Regions from separate parts of the Homo sapiens genome. Here region 1 is linked to region 2. Evidence: fine-mapped expression QTL. A gene starts in region 2. The other region holds a variant in brackets. All regions are shown on one strand. Distances are from middle to middle. Region 1 holds the start of MIR4758 (microRNA 4758). Region 2 holds the start of LAMA5 (laminin subunit alpha 5).

What was found.
Region 1: its variant is fine-mapped to the expression of LAMA5 in gastroesophageal junction (GTEx, PIP 0.92).

The regions. Positions count from the first base shown.
Region 1 is chr20:62,332,394-62,336,393 of GRCh38, forward strand. It overlaps LAMA5 (laminin subunit alpha 5), which reads right to left. Exons shown (of 80, transcript NM_005560.6): 18 at 3,947-4,000; 19 at 2,824-2,876; 20 at 2,628-2,733; 21 at 2,129-2,228; 22 at 1,793-1,949; 23 at 1,508-1,646; 24 at 1,171-1,313; 25 at 982-1,088; 26 at 697-850; 27 at 164-324; 28 at 1-87. MIR4758 (microRNA 4758) reads right to left here and starts at 164; the gene lies at 94-164. The variant C/T (reference allele first, on the strand shown) is at 1,867.
Region 2 is chr20:62,365,622-62,370,077 of GRCh38, forward strand. It overlaps LAMA5 (laminin subunit alpha 5), which reads right to left and starts at 1,691. Exons shown (of 80, transcript NM_005560.6): 1 at 1,328-1,691. The coding sequence starts at 1,624. RefSeq lists enhancers at 496-1,195, 3,294-3,993 and a silencer at 1,375-1,814.

The sequences.
Region 1 (4,000 bases), 33 kb before region 2:
GCTGTGAGCCTCACGCTGGCCTCCGAGTCCAGGTGGAAGACAGCCAGGTGGTCCTGGGTATCCCGGGCAGTGCCCCGGCACAGGGTGCTGTGGGGGGAGGGTGGTCAGCAGGTGGGGCAGCCCCGGGCGTGCCCTTACTCCAGCCCCACCGGCTCCCACTCACCTGTACAGGCAGGGGTGCAGGGAGAGCAGCCCCTGCTGGGGGGCCCGCTGTGGGGTGTGCACGGCCACGCCCACCTCCTGGCGGGCATCCTCATTGGCGTACTCCACCACTAGGGCATAGCGGCCTGGCTGTGGCACTGCCACTTGAAGCTGGACGTCCACCTGCAGGGAAGGCAGGGTGACGGGAGGCCCGCCACCCCTCGCCCTTCCCACCTCCCTCCCCTCCCACTCCAGCGCCTCCCTGACCCCAGGGCCTGCCCTTCAGCCGAGTCCCACCCTGGCCCGGACATCTCCAGGCAAGTGGTGGGGGCTGAGCTGTATGTGGAGGCCACAGCCAATCCTACATACAGACAGGCACTGAGGTCACACATGCAGGAGGCAGGAGGCAGGAGGCAGGGGCGCCCTGCCTGGGTGCTGGGCTCCATTGCCTGAGGCAGCGCCCTGCTCCTATAACCTGCCACCGCCACAGGACCCCCAGCCCCCAGGCCAAGGTCCTGCAACACCCATTGCTCCGTGGGGTCCCAGGACACGCACATCACTGCCCGTGCAGGTGATCAGTGGCGGGTGCGACGGGCTGAGCTGCTCCGTGGGGCAGGGCCGGGGCAGGCTGTTGTCCTGGCGACACAGGGCCTCCAGCCCGGCGGCCGAGGGGAAGCCATCCAGGGGGAGGTGTGTGTAGAGGAGGCAGCTGGGGGGACACAGGCCGTGGTCAGCCCCAGGTCCACCCAGGTCCCCAGAGACAGCCTGAGTGGGGGAAGCCAGGCACAGTGGGGGTCCAGGAAGCCCCCACCCCGGTCCCACCGCACGCATGGCCCTCACTTGTCGCCAGACTGCTGGGCAGAGGGACGGTATGTGCAGGCCTCAGTCACCCGCAGCTGCAGGAGCGCCGCCTCGTAGTATGCGCTAGGCAGCAGAACCACGTAGTCCTGCAGGGTGGAGGTGGTGCTGAGAGTGGTGGGCCCCACCCCCTGACCCGGCCCCCAGCCCTCACTCTGGCCCCTGCCTCACCAGGAGCACCCCTTCGGCCTCCACACGCAGGGCCCAGGTGCCAGGGTTCAGCACAAAGGGCTCTCCGAAGCCCCTCTGGGGCACGGTGATGAAGGCAGGCTCCGTGCTGGGTGGGAAGGCCACGGGCTGACTCTGTGCTGTGCCTGGGCGGGGGCAGGGGTGAGACTCCTGAGCCCAGCCCTTGGGGCCACCCCAGGCTGCACCCCCTACAGGGTTGGGGATAGGCTGGTCCTACCACCCACATGAGCCAGAGGAAGGTGGCGGGGCTTGGGAGTGGGGTGGGGTGGGGTGGGCTGGGCTGGTGGGGCAGGGGCTGTGGCCCAGGGACCCCACTCACAGTTGGCGCAGGTGGCCGACCTGCCCTCCTCTCGCACAGAGACCCGCCCGCTCACACTCATGGCCCCCCGGTTGACGTATCGGAAGACGAGCCAGAAAAGGTCAGGGGAGGTCAGGTTCAGCCTGGCCACGATCCTGGGCTGGGTGGGCATGGAGCGTCGGGTCACTCTCCCTGACCACTGCCAGCCTGAGGCCTGGGCCTTCAAGGGGCCTGCCCACCCCTCCCTGCCAGCCACGCCTGGCTCCACTTCTAGGCTGAGCCTGGGAGGGGGAGCACAGCGCCCACCTGGACAGGTGCCATCTGCGCGTAGCCCCTCCAGCTGAAGTTCTCGAACTCGAGGGGGTTGAAGCCAAAGCGCA[C/T]GGCGTGACCCTCAGGTGTGGCAGCCTCCTCCAGCTCCAGGCGCAGGTGGTGCAGGTCCGGGAGGTAGTGGTCCCTCGCAGGCCTGGCCACAGCAGGGGCTGGTCAGGTGCAGCTTGGCCATCCTACCTAGCCCTGCACAGCGGCCCCGGGTCTCCAGGGAGGGTGAGGCCTCACGTGGGCCCATGGTGAGGGACACGGAGAGGCCCGGAGGACAAGCTGCCTGCCCCGCTCCCCACCACCCAGTGGGGAAGGGGTACCCACTCGCTGCAGGTGGGGCCCTGGGTGTTGGGGCGGCACCGGCAGACGCCCGTCCTCGGTTCACAGCTCTGGCCCAGTGCACCGCCAATGTCACACCGGCAGCCTGCAGGGAGAAGGTGGGAGGTCAGAGGCTGCCTGGCCCCCACCCAGCCTCAGGGGCCCCTCACAGCCAGACTGAGAAGCCTGCCTGGGGCTCTCTGGATGATGGAGAGTCAGGGCTCAGGGCTCAGGGCTCAGGGCGAGGGCGAGGGCGAGGGTGAGGGCGCTGGGATCTGTTAGTGCCGTCTGCCCAGGTGTAGGACAGGGGAGAGGAAGCCACGCATCTGGGTGGGAGCTGCACCCCCTCTCCCACACCCTGGCACAGGCTGGCACCAAGGGGCAGCCATCCATCACCCGGGCTTCATGCTGCCCAGGCTGCACTTGTCCCTCCGGGCCTTGGGTTCCCCAGCATAAACCGAGGGGAGGCAGGGCTGTGGTCTGGGACGAGCGAGTGGGCACTCACTGCGGCAGCCAAAATAGTCAGCCTGATCCAGTCCAAAGAAGCCATCCTTGCAGGACGCGCAGGCCTGGCCGCACACGTGGGGCTTGCAGAAGCACTGGCCGGTGCCCTGGGGGCCAAGGGAGGAGGTGAAGTGGGGCAGGGGAGGGTCCTGACCAGTGTGCCCCCAAATCCCCCACACCTTGGTCCTCAGACTCACCGGCTGGCACTCAGCAACTCCACCCAGTGTGCCCCTGAGGTCGCAGCTGCAGCCTGGGGAGAGCAGGGCAGGACTCAGATGCTTGGTGGGGCAGGAGAGCCTGGCTCCAGCCCCCCGAGGAACCCCCACACCCTAACACCCCCTCCAGGGCACACTCACAGGCTCCAGCACCCCCAGGAGCCCCTGCACCCTGACACTCCCTCTAGGATACACTTGCAGGTACAGTTCCCCAAGGAACCCCTATACCCCAACACTCCCTCCAGAGCACACTATAGGCTCCAGCCCCCCAAGGAAATCCCATACCCCAATACTCCCTCTAGAGCACACTCAGACTCCAGCCCCCCCCCAGGAACCCCTGTACCCCAACACTCCCTCCAGGACACCCTCATGGGTACAATCCCCTGAGGAACTCCACACCCCAACATTCCCTCCAGGGCACACTCACGGGTGCAGCCCCTCCGAGGAACCCCCACACACTAACACCCCCTCCAGAGCACACTCACAGGCTCCAGCACCCCGAGGAAACCCCGTACCCCAACACTCTCTCCAGGGCACACTCATGGACTCCAGTCCCACGCAGGAACCCCCTGCACCCCAACATTCCCTCCAGGACACCCTCATGGACTCCAGTACCCCCCCAGGAACCCCTGCACCCCAACATTCCCTCCAGGACACACTCATGGGTGCAATCCCGAGGAACCCCACACCCCAACACTCCCTCCAGGACACACTCATGGGTGCCATCCCCTGAGGAACCCCACACCCCAACACTCCCTCCAGGGCACACTCACAGGTGCAGCCCCTCCGAGGAACCCCTATACCCCAATACTCCCTTTAGGGCACACTCACAGGCTCTAGCCCCCCAAGGAACCCTCATACCCCCAATACTCCCTCAGGGCACACTCGCAGCCCCCCTGAGGAACCCCGCACCCCAACATTCCCTTCAGGGCACACTCATGGGTACAATCCCCGAGGAACCCCATATCCCACCACTCCCTCCAGGGCACACTCACTGGCTCCAGCCCCTCCAGGAACCCTGCACCCCAACACTCCCTCCAGGATATACTTGTGGGCACAGTTCCCCAAGGAACCCCTGTACCCCAATACTCCAGGGCACACTCACGGGTACAGCCCTCGGGGTTGCTGGGGCTCAGTCCCCAGAACCCAGGTTTGCAGC
Region 2 (4,456 bases):
ACAGTCACAGGCCCTCCGTCCTGAGACCCGGCCCCTCTGAGTTGACCAGATAAGGGGGCAGCCAGGAGGCACCCAGGTTCCCACAGCTAACCCCCGCTGGACCCTGTTCTGGCTGGGGGGCTCCAAGCAGGTGTCAGCAGCTTTCCAGGGCTCAGATCCCCCATCTGAAGTGTGGGCTTGAGACCTCCTATCTCAGAGGACTGTGCTGGGCTTAAGGAGAGAACGGTGAGCCCAGAAGCCTGGGGAGGCTCCTTCCCCCTCCACCAGGGCCAAGGGGGTGGGGCAGGCAGAGGGGGCGGGCCCAGCCCAGGCTCCTCCATTCATCCCCATAACGTCTTGCTCCAGGGCCCTCTGCCCCCACCCAGCAAATCTCCAGCTACTCGCCCCTGCCCCAGCCTCTCCTTCCGGGAAGGCAGAGGTACCAGGGAGGAGACAGCTCAGGTTACACAGGCCCTCAGGGCCCCTAGACTCTCCCTAAGGTGGGGCTGAGGTGGGGAATGGGCCTAGAGCGGCCGGTTGGGAGCCGTTGGAGCTGACTTTGCTGCTCCTCACCCAAGGCTGACCCCAGGCCCAACCTAAGTCTACAGGGCCCCAAGAGCCTTGGTTTTCAGGTGAGGTGTCCATGCATGGAGTCCACCAACAGAACCCGCCTACAGGTTTAAGGCTTGTTGGGGAGGGGACATGCACCCCAGGGGGTCTTCAGGGCCTGAACCCACATCTCCCAGGGAGACTGAAGCCCCCGGACCCTACCACCTGCTGGGCAGAGATGCTGCCCCTCCTGGGAGCCACGTGTTCCCAGCCCCAGTCAAAACTTCGCAGCTGGCCCTCCCCTACTTTGGAGGTCTCCTCGAGTCCCTAGACTCCTCCGAGAGGGGCTAGTGGGAGCCTCAGGTGGCTGGCCCCTCCCACCCCATCCAGAGGCCAACAGGTTCCAGCCTGTCCCGGGTAGGGCGGAGCTGCGCCCCCTCCCCACCGGCAGCAGGCGGCGGAGGCCAAGTCCCGCCCTCCCCGGGATCCCGGACTTGGGGCCGCCAGGGACTGGGCCCGGCCCCCCTCCCGCCCCGGTCACCGCAGTCGAACTGGACCGGCGCCCAGCCGCCCCCGGGTCCATGCCGGGGACTTTAATTCCGCCTTCCCGGAGGGACGCGAAGTTTCCCGGCCGAGACGGAGCGGCCGGGTCGGGGTGCCTTCTTGGGCCCCCAAAATGCGGAACCAGAGAGTCCGCACCTGGACTCGCCCCGGGCCACGGCGCTCCCCCTGGGGTCGGGCCGGTGTTCCGGGTCCGAGTGCCCCGGGAGGAAGCCCCACGGCCCGCCCCTGCGCTCACCCGGATGGTCTGGTTGGGGTCGCCGCCGGCCACGGGGCCCCCTACCAGCTTGCAGTAAAGGTCCTCGGTGGGGCGCGGGGAGCCGCGCGCCGGGGCCTCCTCTCCGCAGGTCGCGGAGGCGGCGATGCGGGCGCCCTCGGCCAGGTTGAAGTAGGGCGGGTGCAGGCTGAAGCCGCCGCCCGCCTCCTCCCGCGCCCGCGCCGCGCCCAGCAGCGCCAGCCCGACCAGCAGCAGCGGCGCGGGGCCCCGGGGGCCGCGAACACACAGTGCGCTCCCCGCGCAGAGCCGCTTCGCCATCTTCCCGGCTCCGGGCCGCGTCCCCGAGCTCCAGGGACAGCGCGCGCGGCGGGAGCCCGGCGGGTCTGAAGCCAGGCGGCCGGCAGGGCTCGCTCCGCCCGCGGACGTCAGGCCCCGCCCCGGCCCGCCCGAGCGCCCGAGCCCCGAGCCCCGGGGAGAGGTCCGGGGAGGCGGGGTGGGGGGGGGAAGGAGAGAGGAGGGGGAGGGGCGGCCGGGCGGCCTTAACCCTTCGGACCCCGGCCCGGCCGCCTCCCGGAAGGGGCACCTGCTGGCCTCGGGCCAGGCCGTGGGACGACGGCGCCGCCGGGCCCCCAGCCCAGGTCGTAGCTCCGGGTCCCGGGTGGGACCCTAGCGCTCCCCACGACGCCCTGGCCCCCAGAGCGCCCACCAGCTCCTCCCAGCCCAGGGGCCCACTCTTTGTTCCCCTAACTTGGGTGCACCACTCGGCTGCCCCCGCTCCTCCCCCAACAGCGTCCGTCCTGCTGGCTGCGGGAAGGTGCCCTCTGCACCCGCGAATGACCATCTGCAGAGGAACGGGGCAGCCTAGGTGGGAACCCCCTGCTTCCTGGGGCAGCCAGGTCAGGTTCAACTCGGCCTGGCTCCCGCCTGCCCCAGCAGGGCTTAAAAATACTCTCAGATAGGGAAATAGGGGCAGGAGGGACTGGCCTGCAGCTGCAGCCCCCTTTAGAGGACGGGGGCGGTGCTCATGGCCCCACAGCCGCCAAATTGGCTCTTAAGGAGGTCGGGGGCTCTGGTCACAGCTGCTGAGCACCTGCTGGGTGCCTGGAAGCACCTGTGCTCCGGGGCCCGGTGGACTCCACCAGCTCTCTCGGCCTGGCCTCCAACCCGCTGCACAGCCGCGCACGCGTTCCTGCCACGATCGGCGGCTCGAGGACGCCTGGCAAACAGCACAGGACCTAGAGGCCGAGATCAGGTCTTCGTCTGCCTTTGGGTGGCTGCGGCCCTGGGTCTCCTACTTCCCTTGGGCTCCGGGGCCAAATCTGCCTCCAGGGAAGCCCCGAGGGGGTGGCGGCGGGGTGGGGCTGCAGCTGCCGAGCTGGCAGCAAACCCCCATCCCTGAGCCAGGCCAGCTGGGCGGGCCATGGTCCCAGATGGGCTGTGGGGCTCATCTCTCGCTGGGTTCCCTGGACAGTCCCGGGGGGCTGGGTGGGTTTGTGGGGCACTGGCCAGCCGGTTCTGGTGGGGGTTCTGAGCTAGCAGCTGTCCCTGGAGGGTGCACCTCCTTGCACACCTTCCTGGCGCCCTGGCCTCCTGCAAATCTCAAATCCCAAGAGGGTGTATGGCCCTTTCTCTACGGAGTCGGGAGGGCGATGGGACCCTCTCTCCCTCCTCCTACTTTCCGGCCCGGCAATTCTTCCATAACTTCACTATTAGTTCTCCCACCTGGGGGAGGGGGGAGAGGAGGCGGCTCCCCTTGGCAGGAGAAGCTCCAAGTGGGGGAGGGGCTGGCTGGAGAGGGGGCGGAGACATCAAGGAATCTGCAGTCCAGGCGCAGAGTCCGGCTCTGAGCTGCTTTAGATCCCGTGTGAGGCAGAGAGTGGCCTCTGGGCAGTAGCGGGTCCCCAGGTGGGGGCTTGGCCCCAGGCAGTGTGCTCTGGCTCTGGGCTCCCCCTTGACAGCTTGGGGCTCTGACAGCCTGGGGGACTGGAGGTGGAGACTCCTGAGACCCTGAGGGCTTCTTGGGATCCCTGGAGGGTCGGGTGGTTGGAGGGGTGGGATTGCGAGTGGCGGGGCAGGGGGAGAGGTGGGGGTGGGGAGAGCACTTTAAGCCTCCTAGCGGCCAGATCAGGCCAAGCTGCCAGGCCTCCGCTGTCCCCCGGCACTGGCCAGGAGGGGAGCGGGGGCCGGCCCTGAGAATGCGCTGTGTCAGCCGGAGCTGCCAGCACCAGCAGGGTTAATCACCGGGCTCACTGCTTCCCGGCAGACAGCTGCCCCGGGAGCAACTGGCAGGCAGGCGGGCAGCGCAGTGGACAAGAGAATGTGGCCCAGGGGCTGGGTAAAGAGCCCACACTCTGCCCCCACCCTGTGTCTGCTGGTGCACGGACTGGGAAGGAGGCAGCTGGGGCAGGAGCTGAGCGTATGGAGGGCGGGGGGGCTGTCCCAGCCGGGCTACACACAGGGGGTTGGGGAGGTGAGCAGGGAGAGGGGCAGCTCATCTCTGCACACCCCCACCCCTGCTGTCTTTGTCATGGTTCCAGTGAGTCATCACCAAATGGACCAGCGAGCCTGTCTCCTTGTCTTTCTGAGTCCTGCGCAGCCCAGCCACCTCTTCTATTTACAAATGGGGAAACTGAGGCCAAAAAGGCCAGGGTCAATCAAGAGCACACAAGTTAGTAAAGCAAGAGGAAGTTTGTCCATCATTCATTTCTTACTCCTATTTACTGGGCATCTTTCGGGCACCCGCCCGTGACGTAGTCCTCCTCCCTGCAACAGGTCAGACGGCACCCCACCCCCAAACACGTCCTGTCCTGAATCCACAGGAGGGAGCTGCCCAGTCTGGGAGTGGAGGGGAGGGTAAAAGGAGGTGGCTCGCCAGGGGAGGGCCGTGGAGGAGCCTCTGTCCCACCAGGCTCTGGCTGCCCTCCAGGGACAATCCAAGATCCAGAGCCCCTGCCCACCCAGCTCCAGGGTGATGGAGCCCCAGAGGAGGTGGGTCGGGGGCAGGGGTCAGTGGCAGCCCGAGAGAAGTAGGGGCACTCCTGGCCCTGGGGAAGGGGTCTCAGATCCTCCCCCAGCCCTGGGACAAGGTCTGCTGCGGAGCCCTGGGGGCAGCCACCTCACCTGAGCCCCCAGTGCTACTCCAGTGGCATT